Linked DNA regions of Homo sapiens. The protein of the gene in region 2 interacts with the protein of the main gene of each other region in a biochemical or structural test. Each region holds a gene or a part of one and is shown on either strand. Other genes may lie near its edges. The genes, in order: SETD1B and WDR82.

Region 1 (9,411 bases), on a different chromosome or scaffold from region 2:
CCTCACAGGAGGAGCCAACAGCACCACGCCAGTTACTTCCAACCAGACAGTCCCGGGCAGGGATGCCAGCAGACAGCTGGCACGGGAGGAAGCCCAAAATAACCCAGACAGCTGGGGTGAGGGGGTGCCATGGGCACAGGCGCTGGCTGCCAAGTCAAGCCACCTGGAACCCCATCCTGGCTCTATTGGTGGTGGCCTTGTGACCTTGGGGAGTCACTTCTCCCCGGACCATGGGTGGGTGACCCAAATCTTGACCCCATCATGGAACAGCCCCTGTGGATGGGGAAAGGCCTGCAGCTGGACTCAACCACTCCAGAGGAGAACCGCGTTGGCCGCCTTCCCAGGGAGCGCCAGATTCCCCTTTGCCCTGAGGCAGGGACACGTGCTTCAGCAGGTGGGCTGGTGCGGGGGGAAGCTCTGAGGCAGCCCAGCCCCCACCCCCTGCAGCCACTCCCAGCAATAACCACGATCACAATGGAGGCCAACTAAAAGCTTGGGAGGAGGGCCTCTTTAACGCACTTAATCCTCCCACCACCCTTTCCAGCAGGCATCCTTATCACTTTACAGGGAGACACTCACCCAAGGTCACCAGCACTGAGAGATCCTAGCCCATGGCGAACTATCTCCCTTAACTTAGCACCAAGATACCTTTAGCAAGATCTCCTTGTTAATCCGAACAGGCCCCCAGAGCTCGGTGTAGCCCTCACAGCGGGAGTGGGGCACAAGTCCCAAATAGGGGAGGTGGTGTGATCAGGAGCACCTGGACCCAAATGGTTCATCAAAGCAATCACAAAGCAGAAATCACAAGGAGGGGGGCTCCGAGACCAAGGGCCGCCATCTCCAGCTGTGGAGCTTCTTAGACACTGAGATGGGAAACTATTCAATACATGAAGTCGGCTAGCGTTAGAATGAAATCAATTACTATGTGCCAAGCGTGGAACGTGGCACTTCTGCGTCAAAACCCCAGGTGTTACCAGGCTAGGGGCTGGAGTCTCAAAATGTGTTCCCAGACCACAGCATCAGCCTCACCTCACCTGGGAACTTGTTAGAAATGCCAGTCCTAAGGACCAACCCACTGAATCAGACACTTGGGCACCAGGCCCGGTGGTCCATTTTCAGTGAGCCCCCCTTCCGGTGTGATTCTGATGCCGGTTCCAGACTAAGAACCACTGATCTAGCCCTGTTTTCGGAGATGGAGAAATAGGCTTGGAGGCTATACCGCTTACGCAAGGCCATAGCTGTTCAATGGCTCGCCAGGTTTCAAATCCAGCTTTGTCTGGTTCTAGAAACAAGGCTTATATACAGGCCTGCCCATTCGGGGACTGGAGAAGAAAACAATCCCAGGAAGGTGGAGAAGCGTCAAGGAAGGCCCTTTCATAGAGAAAGGTGGCCGGAACCTCGGGTCTCTGTTCTTTGCCTCTCTAGCAGCCAGACATCAGAGGACGGCTCACACTGTCACCCCACATGCCCCACGGGGGCGGCTGGAGGGAAGGCCACAGCACAGTTGGGCTTTCTGACAGTGACCTGTGTCTTTCAGAAGTAGGCGGCACCCAGGGCCCTCCCCCCGCCGAAGAACACACAACTGGGAAATACTTGCAAGTGGATCCTCTCGTATGCTGCTATATTCGGCAGAGACTTACACGCCCCAAATGCCTGACAACAGAAGCTGACAGACGGGGATGGATGGCCCCGGCGGCCCAGCAGGCGGCCCTACGCGCTCGCAGCTGGGGGGGGGGGGGTGGGGTGGGGCGGGGCCGCAGAACCAGCCCGGCGTGTTTGGGGTTCGGCCCTCCCTGGGCTGCAGGCCAGAGCCCCCCAAATCTCCCTCACGGTCTGGGCAAGTACTCACACCTACCTTAGTGGGAGGACTGTCAGAGTCAAACTAGGCCTGCCCCTGCCGTTGACAGAAGGAAAGATTGTCCATTCGGGGGGTGCCCGAACGTCGCCCCTTCTCCGGCCCAGAACCTGGAGGAGAGGAAGGTGGAGGGCGGATCAGGGCGTTGGGGGAGAGAGATGTGACCGGCCGAATACACAGCAGACGGGCTCCGGGGCTGAAAGGGAGCACCCCAGACGCCGCCCCTCCCCCAGCGGCCCGGGCGGCCGGGGGTGGCTGAGTCAGAAGGTTCAACCCCGGCCCGGGCGGCGGCTCATCTGCATTTCCAAAGGCCCGCCCCGCCCGCACCCTCCCCGGGAAGGGCCGGAGATCTGAGGCTTCGCCGGGAGCCCCGCGCCTCGGGGGATCCCGGGGCCCCCCCTCCGCTTTCCCAGGCTTCCCCCACCTCCTGCCTGGAGAGCTGGGCTGGAGGGCTGCCCAACGGGGCGTCTGCGGCCACCCCGAGGGCCTCCCGCCCTGAGTGAGGACAAAGGGGGCGACCCCCCGCCCCGCGCTGACTCGGCTCTCAGAGGGCGACTGGGAGGTCGGACCTGGGCGCCCAGAGCTGGGTGGGCAGCGGGGGGCGGCCTGGGGTCAGGGCCAGGCCGGTCCGCGGCTTCCGGAGGAGCCGGTGGGACCCGGGGCGGCCTCGAAGCCCCGCCGACCCCGTGGCCCTCGGCTGCGGGCGCCCGCGCAGGACAAAGACGAAAGAGGGAAGCGGTCCGGGGCGAGGCCTCCTGGTGCCCGCGTGGGCCGCCGGGTCGCCCAGCCCCCTACCCCTGCCGCTCCTCCCGCCCGGCGCGCGGCGGCCGCCACCGCCCCAGCCACGGGCAGCGCGCGAAATGGCGCCCATCAGGCCGCCGCGCCCGGCTGAGGCGAGCGCGGGAGGCGCGGCGCGCGACGCCCCCGAGGCCCACGGCCCCCGAAACGGCCCCCGACACCCGGTCGCCAGCGCTGCGCCCCGCGGGCTCTCGGGGCCCGACCTGGCCGCGGGCCCGCCTCCTGCTCCGGGCTCCCCACGACCGGGGGGACGGAGGAAAGGAGGAAGGAAGGAAAGAGAGCCGCCGCCATTAGCAAAGCAGCCCTGCCCGGCTGGGCCCGCCTGCCAGACCAGCCCGGCCCAGCCGCGACGGGCTCGAAGCCTGTAAAGAAAACTGGTGTTTGGGAGGAGGAGCGAGCGCGGCCGGGAGGACAGCAGCTCCGGGCTGCGGGCGGAGATGCTGCGTCATGGTGCCAACATGGACGCCGGCCTTTTGTCCTCCTTCGCGTTGCCAGCGCAGGCGCGCCCCGGAGCCCCGAGAAGCCGGCTTCGGGGTGCGGAATCCTCACGATCGAAAGGAAAGTGGGCCCAAGGCTGGGCGATGAGGCTCCCTAGTGTTTTAAGCCCCCCCGTCTCCAAAGCACTTCAATTTCTTCTCCCCATCCAGGTTCAGACCTGGGAAGAGCGAGGGGGCGAAGGCAGGCGGCTCCATGGACCCCCGAGGGTCGCTGCGAAGCCCGTCTTCTCGCCCTTGGGGCAGAAGAGGCACAGGGGTCCGAAGAGCCCTTCGTGTCCCAACCCCCCGCCCACTGCCCGCTCCGGCTGCCAAATACAATGCTCCAGAATCCTCCTTCTCCTCTCAGCTCCCAAACACTTGCAGCCCTTGCTTGGCCTGCAAAAGGGTTTCCTCGAAGGGGCAAAAGGCACTTTTTATCTTTCTTACTTACCCGCTCAGCCCGGTGCCATGGAGTCTAGAAGATCAAGCTGGGCGGTGGTTTTGGAGACGTTATTGTAAAAACATATATATTTTTTGATTTAGTTGGGAAATTTGGGGGTTATGGTGGTGTCTTTGTTCTTATTACCTTTTTGTAAGTTACACCCTCACGTTCTGCTCCTTCCACTTCTGCAAACTTTCCAGGGTTGGGTAGGCAAAAAGGCGGCTTCGCTGAGGACTGTTTACTGCTCTGGATATAGCAATGGTGTGATCGTCATTAAGAGACAAAAGGCGAAAATACAGTCAAATCAAACAAAAGGCACAAGACGCACCAGCCGCCCAACCACCATAGAAAATACCCCCCACTTAACGTTGGTGTTTGCTGGAACCAGCTAGGACTTGTTTTCCAGTTTTAATCTAGTTTCCTGTGACGGCTTTAGTCTCTCTACACAAAGAAAAGGTCTTCCTTTCCCTCACCCACCAGCTCCCCCCAACCCCCAACACCAAAGACGAGAAAAACAGGGCTGTTTTTCTTCAAATAGATCGATTTTCAAAGAAAGTGTACAAGCTACGGGGAAGAAAGCTGACTAGCATTTAGTGCTGTAAACATTTTCAAAAGCATAAAGCTAGAACCTTAGCTTTATAAAGCAAGATCGTCTCAAGCATCTTAACTGGCTTATATTAGACAAGAGAGACAAAGACATACATGCAGATGAAGGTTCGGAAAATTAAGGACATCTCAGCAACATTAACATCAAAACTGTACTGCGTCAGGACAGAATGGATTGGGTACTTACAATGTAAAAGGTTTTTTAAAAACTAAAAGAGTAACAACTGCTCACAATTTTTTGTTGCTGCCATTTCGCTAGTCCTAAAGCTATATACATTTAAAACATTACCTTGTTAAAAAGAGAGAAGGAGTTAATAAGATGGCCAGGTTTAAGTGTTTAATAGAGGAAACTAGATATATTTAAAAATTTATTGTTCAGTCAAGAGAATACAGATTAAGACAGCTCCAAGCTCCCCCCACCCACCCATAGAACAAAAAGAGGAAAAAAAATATGTCATTTACTTAGGTTTTTTTGGAATTCAAAACTGTTAACTGCTGACATGAATGGTGTGCTATGACCTAGTTATACAAGACAAAGATGGATTCCAAGTCATAAGGAAAAATCCAGATCTTTTTAAAAAGTCTTCTCCAGTCTTCCAACTGTGAGTCCTTGGGCCTGTTGACAAATGTTAAACACACTGAGACGTCCTGAACTGGATGGTAGAGTCAAAGGAAAAACATTCCCCATTTGCAACAAAGGAAAAACCCACTTGGCCATTTAATTCCATTGCAGAAAAATGGCTTCCCTCATCTGTTGGCCTCTCCTTCGTGTCTGATGAAGGATGTTTTGAGATCAGCGTCTAATAACTCAAGCCCTATAGAAGCCGCGCGCTGATTGGCTGCCGCGCCCTGCCGCCCTGCTCCAGCCAATTACCTACCCACGGCCAAATTACAAACCCCGAAAAGAGCCCCAATATGAGCTACACCAGCTCCGAGCCCCGGCGAGGCGGCTCCTGCGCCTCGGCCGCCAGAGAGGAGCGGCAGAGGGGGCTGCAAACGCGTCCTCGCGAAGCCCGGGAGCCTCGGAGTTGAACTCACAAAATGGAAGCCGCGCGCTGATTGGCCGCCGCCACTCCCGGACCTTTAATAAAGAAAGGGGAAGGAAAAGATAAATGCAAAAAAGGGGGACTCTCTCCTCCGCGGGTGGCTGGAGGAAGGGGGGGAAGCATGTGTTCAGGACAATTACAGGGCGCTCCCCTCCAAAAATAAAAACAGAAGAAGGCGTCTATCGCCCAGGTCCAGGCGAGGGCTGCATCCTCCCAGGAATGCGAATGCTAACGTGGTGAACCCTGGTCTCCCTTCCCCAGCTCAGCTCCGGGGAGGGGGTCGCGGGCCGCAGGAGGAAGCCGGAGCGCAGATACCTCGATTGCAACTCCTCTGAGTCGACGCCGGCCTCCCCCCGCGGCTCCCAGCGTCCACACACACCCTCGGCCCCCCAGACCCCAGCCATCTCCCCGGGCCCCGCGCGCCCGCCTCCGGCCCGGGCAGTTTGGAAACAGTTTTGCAGGCCCGGGACGCACGCCGCGGCGGTCGCGGCTCTGAGGGTAGTCCCGGCCGCGGGAGGTAGAGCCCGGGGAGACCCCCTCCCCCGCCAGCCAAGACCCCCACCCCAGTCCCAGAAAAATAAATAAATTAAAAGGCCTTCCCCCGGGGAGGGGGAGGCAGTGTGGGAGCGCGCGAGTGAGGGGTGGGGGGCCGCTGGGGCCCGGGGCTTTGGCGGCGCAGCTGCCGCCGCCGGGAGAGTGCCTGGGGAAGCGGCGAGGAAGGAGAGGGGAGGAGGAAGAGGAGGAGGAGGAGGAAGAGGAGGAGGGTGAGCGCTCGGGTCGGGCTCCTTAGCGGTGTATTGTGGGATGTGCGGCTACTGGGAGCCGAGCCTCCGCCGCCAGCCGCCTCCCGGGCAGCAGCAGCAGCAGCGGCGGCGGCAGCGGCAGCAGCTCCGGGCCCGGCAGCCGCGGCGGCGGCGCCCCCCCTTCCTGGCCCCCGGTCCGGCCGCCCCGGCCTCGGCTCCCTCGGGGGACACCATGTACTGGCTGGCGGCGCAGGGAGGCCGGCGCCCGGCGGGGATGTAAGCGCGGCTCGGGGAGGGAGAGGCCGCGGCCGGCAGCCGGGCGGCCCAAGCCCCCGGCCCCGGCCCTGGCCCGAGCGGGCGAGCGGGCGGGCGGGCGGCGGCGCCGCCAGGCCCTGCCGCCAGCCTCGCGCCAGAGCCGGGCCGAGCTAGCGGGTGAGCGCCACGCCGGGCGGCCGGGCGGGCACCATGGGCCGGAGTCCGCGTCCTCCGGGCGCCCCGGGCCCCGCCAGCCCGCCCAGGGGACCCCCGGGAGCCCCTCGCTGCCGCCCCGAGACGGTGGCCGAGCGGGCGGGCGCGTAATTCTCCCGGAAGGGTTATTCTCTCGCTCCATTCTTGTTTTGGGGGGAGCCAGCGAGACAGCTCCTTTCGGGGCGCGCTGGCAAGGTGGGAGGGGGTGGGGGCCTGCCGATTGGATTCTTTCGCGTGTGTGTAGAAGCGGCCGCCGCCGCCGCCGCGGCGGAGACGACAACAACTTGCTGGTTTTCAGGTTGGGTTAACGGCATGGAGAACAGTCACCCCCCCCACCACCACCACCAGCAGCCCCCGCCGCAGCCCGGCCCTTCGGGCGAGAGGAGGAACCACCATTGGAGAAGTTACAAGTTGATGATTGACCCGGCTCTGAAAAAGGGGCATCATAAACTGTACCGCTACGATGGGCAGCATTTCAGCCTGGCGGTGAGTAGCCGGCGCGCCCCCCCAGCCGTGCCCCGCGTCGTGTCCGGGGAGACGCGCCTAGCGGCCAGGGACCCCCCGCCCGATCCCCCGGCCAACTGTCAGACGGGGCCCCAGCCCTGGAGTTTGACAAGTGCCTCGAGAAAGGGGTCTGCCCATGGGGAGGGGGACCAGTTCTCTCATCCCGGCCCCCCAATTTCTCCCCACAGATGTCCAGCAACCGCCCGGTGGAAATTGTCGAAGATCCCCGGGTCGTCGGGATCTGGACCAAAAACAAGGAGCTGGAGCTGTCGGTGCCCAAATTCAAGGTAGGACCCCTCCCCACTGCCCCGCCGTCCCTCCCCCACCTCCCCGAGTTCGAAAATAACGCCAGTCCTGACCGAGCCCAGCCGGATTCCCAGTTCCCGCCGTCCGGGGCCAGGGAAGTTTTGGCGGGGAGGGGTAGAGCGCTGGCGAGAGGGTGTCCCCTCTCAGCTACTGAAAACAAAATAACACTGGGTGAAACTGTAATCACGGCGCAGATACAGTGTCCTGCACGCCCCGCGGGGGGCTCGGCTCCGAGACTCTCCCCTCTCGCTAGCCCACTACAGGACAACTTCTTAAGCCTGAGGGGTCGCCCCTGACCCGGCAGCAGGAAGAGAAGGCCAGAAAGGGGGGTGGGGAAAGAGAAACTGTTTCTTTTTCCCCTTTCCTTCCGAACCCAGAGGACTTCCACGTTCCAAACGATTTAATCCTCCGCTTCCCGGGCCCGCCCGCGTGCATTTTTTTTTTCCAAAAAAAATTTTTTTTTTTTTTTTAATTTTTAGTTTTTTTACCCTTTATTGTTTTCAACGGGTGGGCGAGTTGCGGGCGGGGCGGGGGGGATGTTGTGTTTTCCCTTAGGTTTAAACGTTCTTCAAACTCCCTTCCCCCTCGGCCCCTGCCAGATCGATGAGTTCTACGTGGGCCCGGTGCCTCCGAAGCAGGTGACATTTGCCAAGCTGAATGATAACATCCGTGAAAACTTCCTGAGGGACATGTGCAAGAAGTATGGGGAGGTGGAGGAGGTGGAGATTTTGTACAACCCCAAGACCAAGAAGCACCTGGGCATCGCCAAGGTGGTCTTTGCCACGGTCCGGGGAGCCAAGGATGCCGTTCAGCACTTGCACAGCACTTCCGTCATGGGCAACATTATCCACGTGGAGCTGGACACCAAAGGTGAGCCTGGCAGGGGAGGAGCGTGGGGAGACCTGTCAGCCCGACCCTTTCCCTCCCCACCCTTCCTGCAGCGTGGGGAGGACCCCCCCTCACTCTTCCTTGGGATCCCCCCCCACAACCTTATTTCTTAGCCCCCTCCTGAGGGTAGAGTCGCGTGGAGCTAAATGTGTTGTCTGTTGCTAGGAGACAGTCTGTAATTTACCAAATGTGCCGGTCCTTGGCCACCGCACCCCTAGGGACCACCCGGAGGCTTCCCCACCGCTGACACCCCCGCGGGCCCCCTCTCTGAGCCCTGGTGGCTTGGGTTTAGACAGTCCCCAGTGTTGCCTGTGTTAGGGGAGGAGACAGAGTTTGTTTACTTGTGGGGGACTGAGGAAGTGCCACTAGGATGCCTTGAAATACATCAAGAGAAGGTCTGAAAACTGAAAAGAGAGTCCTCTAAGGATCCAGGGTGTCCCCCCACCTCCTTGCTGCCCCTTCCCCTCTGGAAGTGGCAGCCAATCTGGGGCCAGGAGTGTTGTTTCATTGATAAGGTTCTCGACAGAGCCGCCGGGGAAGAGCAGAGCCGGGAAGAGGGAAGAGCCAGGCAGGCGGCTCTGGGTGCTCAAGGGTTGACACTGTGTCTTCCCTCCTCTCTCTTAAAGAGACCGCAGCACCTCCCCTGCTCTGGAATCAGCTAGGTGCTCTCTGGAGCTGGCTGGGGAGGCCATACCTCCCACCCTGTGGGTCTTCGGAGGCCCCTGCAGGACCAAGGGGCTTGGAGGACTCGAGGGCATTCCCCAAAGTGTGCCTGAGGCCTCTTTAGGGAAGCTCCCACCTATAAAAGAAGGTGCCGAGTGCTTTGAGGGCCAGCCAGCTTGTGGGGAGATGTCATTCGGTCCCTAGCCCACCGGGGTCCCCTGGGAAACCCTGCCTGGGAGGGCAAAAGTGCAGCTTCCAGGAATTTTGTGAGCATGGCGTTCAGGGACAACTGGGACACACCAAACCCAAGGCAGGAAAATCAGAACTTTTCTTTTTTTGCGTTTAATGATTAAAATGTATTGACCGAGCTCTAAGCCGGTGCCGGGGGGTGGTGGCAGTTATTCCACGCACACTTGCCGAGCCTGTGCCCGGTTCTGTTCCTCCTCTCAGGGCACAGCCCTCTTTTTCTGTCCAGTCCACAGTCCCTCCCACCCCTTTCCCTAGCTTCTCAGTCTCTGGGGGTTGGGGGGGCAGTGAGGACCTTGGGTGGCTGCAGCACGATTTCTCCCTGATAATTGAATTGAACATGGTAACCCCTTTCCTATCACGTGCCCAC
Region 2 (9,066 bases):
TTGACACCTGCAGCGAAAATTAACCCTTCTGGATCAAAAGAACAAACTGGCTTCCCCTGCAGATGCATGAGGCCCTAAGAGAAAAGAAATAAGAAATACACTAAAACACACATGCCACAACCATACGTGGAATAACCAAAGACTGCTGGTACAATGGGGAAAAAAAAATGAATCCAGGACCTTACCACTATATAATTTACTTTTCCCAATTAAAACTAAGAAAGGCATACAAACAAATATCAGCCTACCTACAGAACACACACAAAAAAAACATAAAACTAAAATGAAGCTTTTAAAAAACAGGTCTCCAGACAACAATTTCTGATCAACTCTAACTGCACAATATTACAGACACAGAATTCAAATAAAAATAAATCCCTTGAAGCTAAAAGCTCTAGGAACACTTTTAAAAACATTAAGCCAGCTGGGCGCAGTGGCTCACGCCTATAATCCCAGAACTTTGGGAGGCCAAGGTAGGAGGATCACCTGAGGTCAGGAGACTAGCCTGACCAACATGGAGAAACCCCGTCTCTACTAAAAATACAAAATTAGCCAGACATGGTGGTGCATGACTGTAATCCCAGCTACTTGGGAGGCTGAGGCAGAAGAATCGCTTGAACCCTGGAGGTGGAGGTTGCGGTGAGCTGAGATTGCACCATTGCACTCCAGCCTGGGCAACAAGAGCGAAACCCTGTCTCAAAACAAAAACAAAAACAAAACAAAACAACAAAAAACCCACAACAATTAAGCCACAGAGTACAATGCAATCTGCACTAGATTAGGGTATGTGCTTAGCAGCTACCAACTAAAAAAACAGATTTTCTCCAAAGTTTAAAAAGACCCTGTGATCCCAGAATGGAACCACTGTTTTCTCCCTTCTTTGAGAGGTAGAGTTCATTACAGTGCCTACCAAAGAAAATGCTCAAAAAGTATAACTGTGAGGTACCATTACCTGGCAGTTAGGAGACCGGAGATCCCAGAGTCGAATGGTCTTATCAAGAGACCCAGAAATGAAAGTGTCATCCACAGGTGACATGGACAAGGCCACCACCCTGCAATACATCGAGATAAATAGGAGTTGATGCGAAATATTAGCAAAAATTGGATGTGAATTCTAAACCACTCTGCCTATCTATACATATATATACCTGTTCTCCCAAAATTGCCATTTTAAGAAACACAATAAAACACACATACCACAACCATATCTGGAACAAACAAAGGCAACTAGTATAAAAAAAAAAATTTAAAGCTACAAAATAAAAATATATGATTCCAATGCAAATCAAAACCACAATGAAATACTACTCCACACCCTCTAGCATAGCTATAATAAGAGAGATAACAAGTGTTGGTGAGGATGCAGAGAAATTGGAACCCTCATACATTGCTAATGGAAATGTAAAAATGGTACAGTTGCTTTGGAAAAGTTTTTCCAAAAAAAGTTACCACGTGACCCAGAAACTCCACTCCTAGGTATTTACCCAAGATAACTGAAAATATATGTCCACACAAAAATGTACACATATGTTCAGATCTGCACTATTCATAACAGCCAAAAAGTAGAAATAACCCAAATGGTCCATTAACTAATGGATGGACAAACAAAATGTGCTGTATCTATACACTGGAACATTATTTGGCAATAAAAAGTAATAAAGTACTGCCTCATGTGACAACATGGAGGAACCTTGGGAACACCATGCTAAGTAAAAGAAGCCAGGCACAAAAGATCAGATATGAACTGATCCATTTACACAAAATGTCTAGAATAGGCAAATCTATAAAGACAGAAGTAGATCAGCAGTTGGTAGGGGCTGAGGGAGTGATTACTAATGGGTACAGAGTTTCTCTTTGGAGTGATAAAAATGTTCTGAAGTTAGATGATGGTGATAGTTGTCCAACTTTGCAAATATAGTAAAAACCACTGAACTGTACATTTTTAAAGGAATCATTTACAGTATGTAGACTGTATCTCAATTAAAAAAACACAAAAAAGCATGATTCCTTATCAAGATGTGTGAGGACTACACAGATATTCTCAAACCTAAGTGGCATCAGCATCACCTGGAGGGTGGGTTAAAACAGACTGCTAGGATCTGCTCCCAGAGCCTCTAATCCAGTAGGCCTGACTTGGGGTCTGTGAATCTGAGTTTCTAACTAGCCCCCAGGTGATGGGTGAGGCTGCTGTTTTGGGCACCACACCTAGAGAACCACAAGCCTATGCTAACAGCAACTGTATTCCTTTTTTGGTTCCCTTTTGTGGTTATACCATCAAGAGACACTCACTGAAAAACATTTTCTTCCAATGTAACTCAACTAACATCTGCACCAGCTCCTCAAGTTAAAATTTTAAAAGGTATTGTTAAAAGCCAAAATTTCCTGAGAATGCTGAGGAGGTAATAAAACACAATGAGCAGGCCAGGTGCGGTGGCTCATGCCTGTAATCCCAGCACTTTGGGAGGCCCAGGTGGGCGATCACCTGAGGTCAGGAGTTTGAGACCAGCTTGGCCAACATGGTGAAATCCCACCACTAATAAAAATACAAAAATTAGCCAGGCCTGGTGGCGTACACCTGTAATCCCAGCTACTCAAGAGGCTGAGGCGGAAGAATCGCTTGAACCCCAGAGATGGAGGCTGCAGTGAGCCAAGATCACACCACTGCATTCCAGCCTGGGAAACAGAGCAAGGCACCGTCTCAAAAAACAAAAATCAGAATGAGCAGAACACGTTGTGGACATGTAATTTTATGCCATGGCATTCAGCCCAAGAGCTCAGCACAAGACTCTATGCTGAGAAGTACAGGGAACACATGGAGAAGTAAGACCCCGACCGTAAGGAATTTTAACTGTCCAGTCCACATGACTCCAAGAGGACCAGAGAAGGCTTCTGGAAAGATACAACATCTGAGGTAGAAAGGATTTCAAAGAAGTAGCCCAGAGTTCACCTTAATGGGAATGGTGGGAGAAAATGCTGAGAAAATGGGTCAGAGCCAGAAGGGACAGAACCTGACTACAAGGGGAAGGAGCAATGAAAATATAGAGAACCATTAAGAGAGATTGTGAAGCAATCAAACTGCAATCCAGGAAGCTGAAACAGGATGGTAAGAGATGGGAAGATTAATTAGGAGCTAACAATAATTTACCTCACAGGGCATGAGCCAGGGCAGAAGCAAAGGAGAGAACACAGAGGAAAGTGACACATGAGGTTAAACCTAGGGAGAACTAAATAGTTTAACAACTCACTGAATATGATGGCAGGGGAAAAAGAGTGAACTAACAACAGATGCTTTGAGCCAGAATTGGAAGAGACAGAGATGAATAAATATGAGGAAGACAGAGAGAAGCTGGCCCAAAAAAGGTAACAATGATGGACAGAGTACTGGACCTGAGTATTAGAAAGAGTATTGGACAGAAGAGACAGCTACAAAGATGTGTATAAAACATGTAGGTGGTGCTGGGTGCAGTGGCTCATGCCTGTAATCCCAGCACTTTGGGAGGCTGAGGCGGATGGATCACCTGAGGTCAGGAGTTTGACAGCGGCCTGGCCAACATGGTGAAACCCTGTCTCTATAAAAACACAAAAATTAGCCGGGCATGATGGTGCGTGCCTGTAATCCCAGCTATTCGGGAGGCTGAGGCAGGAGAATCGTTTGAACTCAGGAGGTGGAGGTTGCAGTGAGCCAAGATCATGCCATTGCACTCCAGCCTGGGTGACCCGGTGAGCCTCCATCTCAAAAAACAAAAAAACAAACAAAACCTGTAGGTGGAAGGCGGGTCTGAAACTGATAATAGACATGAGCTAAAAATACTGATTTGGGAAGCCACCTGAATGGAGGTAAATGAAATCAGCGATGGAGATAAGAAAGCGGATAAAATATTTGTTTATTTTAGAGTCAAAACAGAGGCTGAAAACTACAAGAACAGAACCGACATGGGAAAAGTCACCTGCCACGGGAAAGTAAGTTTTACTGAGAGGTTAAGCACCAAGAAAAGCCCAAACCAGTGGCTTTTTAACTAGAGGCAGCAGGGAATGAAGGATAAAGGTTTGGATAAAGCCCCATAGACGATTCTGGGACTAGTGCAAAAATGATTTCAACAGTGAACATGTGTGAGGAGGTGGAGATGGGAATGTACAGATTCTTCTTTCAAGTTTGATAGTGAAAAGGAGTGGGTGATAGGGTCAATAAGTAGATTTAAGATAAGAAAGACCAAGTAAATTTGTAGGCAACAAAGGAAAGGCCAATTAAGGAGATGGAAGCAAGCAGAAAGAGGAAGGTCTGTTTTGTGAAAGAAAGACAACAGCTTTCTCAAGGAAAGGATTCCAAGGAAGACAGAATTTAGGTGGAAGGGATAGATGTTTAAAAGAACTCTTTTTTTTGGAGACACGGTCTTGCTTTGTCACCCAGGCTGGAGTACAGTGGCACAATCATGGCTCACTGCAGCCTCAACCTCCCAGACTCAAGCGATCCTCTCACCTCAGCCTCCCAAAGTGCTGATAACAGGCCTTAACCACCACACCCAGCTGAAATAACTCATTTTGTATAGCCTTGATTTTCTCATAAAAGGAGGGACAAAGTCATCTATCAAGAATCAGGAGGTCGGCCAGCCGGGTGCGGTGGCTCACGTCTGTAATCCCAGCACTTTGGGAGGCTGAGGCGGGCGGATCAGGGACCATCCTGGGTAACACGGTAAAACCCCATCTCTACTAAAAATACAAAAAACTAGCGGGGCTTGGTGGCGGGTGCCTGTGGTCCCAGCTACTCAGGAGGCTGAGGCAGGAGAATGGCGTGAACCCAAGAGGCGGAGCCTGCAGTGAGCCAACATTGCACCACTGCACTCCAGCCTGGGCGACAGAGCGAGACTCTGTCTCAAAAAAAAAAAAAAAAAAAAAAAAAAAAAAAAAAAAGAATCAGGAGGTCAAGAGGTTGAATAATTGGGAAGACTGGAAAGCACGTCAAACAACTGCATCAACTCTTAATTACAAATAGTACATTTGTGAACATTAATTTGAATAAAAACAAGCAAAACATCTACTTATCATGAGCCATCCTTTGTCTGAAACCAGTTACCACTGGTTGCCACCTTATTTCACCTTTATTTCAGCAACACAAATGGCCTGCCCAACTGGAAGTGCAACTTTTTTTTTTTTTTTTTTTTTTTGAGACAGGGTCTTGCTCTGTCACCCAGGCTGGATGGAGTGCAGTGGCGCCACCTTGGCTCAATGCAGCCTCTGTCTCGCGGGTTCAAGCAATTCTCGTGCCTGAGCCTCCGAAGTAGTAGGAATTACAGGCGCACACCACCACTCCTGGCTAATTTTTGTATTTTTTGTAGAGACAGGGTTTCACCATGTTGCCTAGCCTGGTTTTGAACTCCTGCACTCAAGCAATCTGTCCTCCTCAGCCTTCCAAAGAGCTGGGATTACAGGCATTAAGCCACCACGCCTGGCCTGGAAGTGCAATTTCTAACAGGAGGCTCTCAGGCCATCTCCTGTCAGGGCTCCATACCAATCGAAACCATCCTGGGTTACTGTACATTTGCAAATGGATGCAGGAAAAAATACCCCAAGTGATTAAAATATTATCCAGGGGAAAACGTGTTTAACATTCAAAGAAAAGTTGAAAAATTAGAGAAAAAAGTAACTAGGGGCATTGGGGTGAAGAACAGAGAGAAGCAACCTGCATTACAATACAGAAAAAGGAGATAAACTTCTTGATTTTAAAAAAAGGACTTTCTTTTGCATTCTCATTAAGATCTTTAAATGGAACATTTTTACATAGGGGCCCACTGAAATGGGGGCCACATATATTGGAAGGCCTCATAAACACAAACAGTCCTTTATTAAGGGATATGTGAGATTTGGTATTCCTAAATGCCAAATCTAATTTTTACTACATAAGTTTTCACTGAATATCTTTAATCCACATTTTTTCTAGTTTTATATGTATATATAAAACTAGAAATATATATATCTAACTAGAAATAGATATACCTATAACTAGAAAAAATATATATACATATATATCTTTGAGACGGAGTCTCACTCTGTCGCCCAAGCTGGAGTGCAGTGGCGCGATCTCGGCTCATTGCAACCTCTGCCTCCTGGGTTCAAGCGATTCTCCTGCCTCAGCCTCCCGAGTAGCTGGGATTGCAGGTGTCCACCACCATACCTGGCTAATTTTTGTATTTTTAGTAGAGATGGGGTTTTGACACGTTGGCCTGGCTGGTTTCAAACTCCCGGCCTCAAGTGATCCGCCCGCCGCGGCCTCCCAAAGTGCTGGGATTACAGGTGTGAGCCACTGCACTGGGCCTAGTTATATTTTAACTGAGGTATCTCTGAACACCTACCTCTGCACCTCTATAACCTCAGTAAATCAAGAGTTGACTATTTAAGAGAAGATGAAGAATGCCAAGCAGTAGTGAGGAAGTAGCTTCAGTTCACTAATAAGCTCTCTCTAGCCTTCTATTCTCTGGGTAACCTCAGGGATAAAAGAACTATCTGCTTCTATAATACGTGGGTCTTACCTTTTGCTATGTCCAGGAAAGTATCTGATGTATTTGTTGTCATGCAAGGACAAGTAACGAATAGTATCTGTAAAAAGACAAACAAGGTATGATGATATCATACTATTTAAAAGAAATTTACTTTACATTTTCATCTTAAAAAGACAAGGTCAAATAATCCATTGTATTCTATATCCCAAGCAAGGCATGAATAAATAATGGTGAATAATTCTACTCTGCAGCTGAAGAGTGGGTATGTAGATTTCACCTAACTCAAAAGCAGAGTTCTTAAGTTGACAGCATAGAAAGCAATGTTTGAAATGACCTTTTATTACCAATTTGGTTTCTTCATAATTACAATGCAACTCCCACCCTGCAAATATACCCTGGTCAAAAAACAAAAACAAGTAAAGCACACATAATAATTTTAGATACTGGTCTAGTGTCCACAGAATGGCAAACCTTAAAGAAAAATATGTGGCTGTTGAGCTAACAGACTTAAAGAGGTGAGCAGCCATGGCAGTTAAACTGAAGATCAGGTTGAACCCTGGCAGCAATTTTTGTCTAGAGTTCTCCATCAGTATGTTGACCCACCCTCAACTCATTTGAACATTCTTCAATTGGACACACAAATTACAATGAAAATAAACAAAACGTCAGAGAAGTGATGTCAAGATCTGGGTTAAAAAGATCTTAAGACATTAAAAAAATCAAATTCTTATACCAATGAGTAATAGCAGTGAGATTTTGACAATATTAAAGAAAGGAACAATCAGAGATTTGTGCTTGTGGAAAAATAAGACACTCTTAACCAAATGATTCTATCTGAAAGAGTAAACAAACAAAAAACATGGTGGCGGTAGAGAAATGAAGTGCCATAAAGAATAAAACTGCAAAATAGAAAAGTATTATCCCCTTAAAAAGACTAGGAATAAGGAAAAATTGTTGAGAAACAGCTAAGGGAAAATGGTACCAAAATGCAGAAAGAAAACCATAGAAAGAACATTCTGAAGGCAAACAGAACATAGGAATAAAGGGGTTGAAAGCATCGAGTCATCCCAGGGGTTCACAGGGGTGCTTTCTAATAAGAGGGCATTTAACTTGGGAGGGGGAATAGGGGAATAGGGATATTTGTATATTCCATAACTTGAACACTACACAATTTTCCTTGAAAACATCTTCAAACTTCTTGAATGACAACTACGAAGTATTTCTAGTTATTCTACTGCTAACAATGACTCACCTGCCCTAAGAAGAAAAAGACTTCCTCCCCATTACCTGGTTTCCCAGAGATGAGCAGGGTGACGCCATCCTCTCAGCCCCACTTGGCAGCTGGCGCGCTGTTCCTGGCAAGGCAGTGGCCTGTACAGTTATCTCCTGTACCGGGTGGTATCATAGACCCTCAAACTGTACAAACTACTACCTCAGCCTGGAATCAGGCAAAAGGAAACGGAGCGCTGGAGGAACTCTTCAGGATGCACTTGAGACAGGAAAGGGAACATCCTCACAGCAGAGGCTTGGCAGCAAAGCTACAAGTGCCACACATTTGCCTCATCTTGCACCACATTTGGAGAATCCTCATTTAATCACTCAGAAAAACATCCCAACAGAAGAAATAAACCAGTCATTCGGATGATCACATAGACATGTTTCCTCAGGATCCTAAGGTTTTACATTCTTTTCCAAAATCATTAACTACACTGCTTCCTTAGAAAACCACTTCTGAAATACAGGCATGAAAAGTAGAAATGACATACTTAACTAAAAATCAATACAGGCAGAAGAGTCTCATTAAAAAAAAAAAAAAATGGAAAAAAGGACTTCCGCCCATTCTGCTCTGAGATAGGCACAGCCAAAATAGCAGTATAAGCTATCCTTGTGGAATGACATTAGAAAAATCTTTTTTGTTTTTTTGAGATGGAGCCTCGCTCTGTCACCCAGGTTGGAGTGCAGTGGTGTGATCACCCTAGACCTCCAGGGCTCAAGCAATCCTCCCACCTCAGCCTTACAAGTGGCTGGGACTACAGGCGCGTCCCATCACACCTGGCTAATTTTTGTATTTTTTGTAGAGACGGGGTTTTCCCAAGTTGCCCAGGCTAATCTCGAACTTCTGTGCTCAAGTGATCCACTCTCCTAGGCCTCCCTAAGTGCTGGGATTACAGGCATGAGCCACTATGTAGCCACCGGCCTAAAAAAAACCTTACTGCAAAATGTGAGATGATCATCAATAATCCACTGAAATAAGTTTAAAAACAGAATCCTGGCCGGGCGTGGTGGTTCACACCTGTAATCCCAGCACTTTGGGAGGATGAGGCAGGCAGATCACTTGAGGTCAGGAGTTCGAGACCAGCCTGACTAACATGGTGAAGTCCCAACTCTACTAAAAATACAAAAATTAGCCGGGCGTGTTGGTGGGCACCTGTAATACCAGCTACTTGGGAGGCTGAGGCAAGAGCATCGCTTGAACCCAGGAGGCTGAGATTGCAGTGAGCCGAGATTGCACCATTGCACTCCAGCCTGGGCAACAAGAGCAGGACTCTGTCTCAAAAGAATAAAGAATAGG

The links.
Region 1: the proteins of WDR82 (region 2) and SETD1B form a complex in vitro, tested with the Homo sapiens proteins (one study listed by BioGRID).

The regions. Positions count from the first base shown.
Region 1 is NC_000012.12:121,797,992-121,807,402, forward strand, and holds the start of SETD1B (histone-lysine N-methyltransferase SETD1B), read left to right. Parts: upstream 1-6,017; 5' UTR 6,018-6,242; intron 6,243-6,382; exon of another isoform or gene 6,383-6,398; intron 6,399-6,732; 5' UTR 6,733-6,746; coding exon 6,747-6,920; intron 6,921-7,126; coding exon 7,127-7,225; intron 7,226-7,843; coding exon 7,844-8,114; intron 8,115-9,411. UniProt on the Homo sapiens protein: Histone methyltransferase that catalyzes methyl group transfer from S-adenosyl-L-methionine to the epsilon-amino group of 'Lys-4' of histone H3 (H3K4) via a non-processive mechanism.
Region 2 is NC_000003.12:52,260,428-52,269,493, forward strand, and holds part of WDR82 (WD repeat-containing protein 82), read right to left. Parts: intron 7,935-9,066; exon of another isoform or gene 7,851-7,934; intron 6,592-7,850; coding exon 6,525-6,591; intron 1,053-6,524; coding exon 953-1,052; intron 75-952; coding exon 1-74. UniProt on the Homo sapiens protein: Regulatory component of the SET1/COMPASS complex implicated in the tethering of this complex to transcriptional start sites of active genes.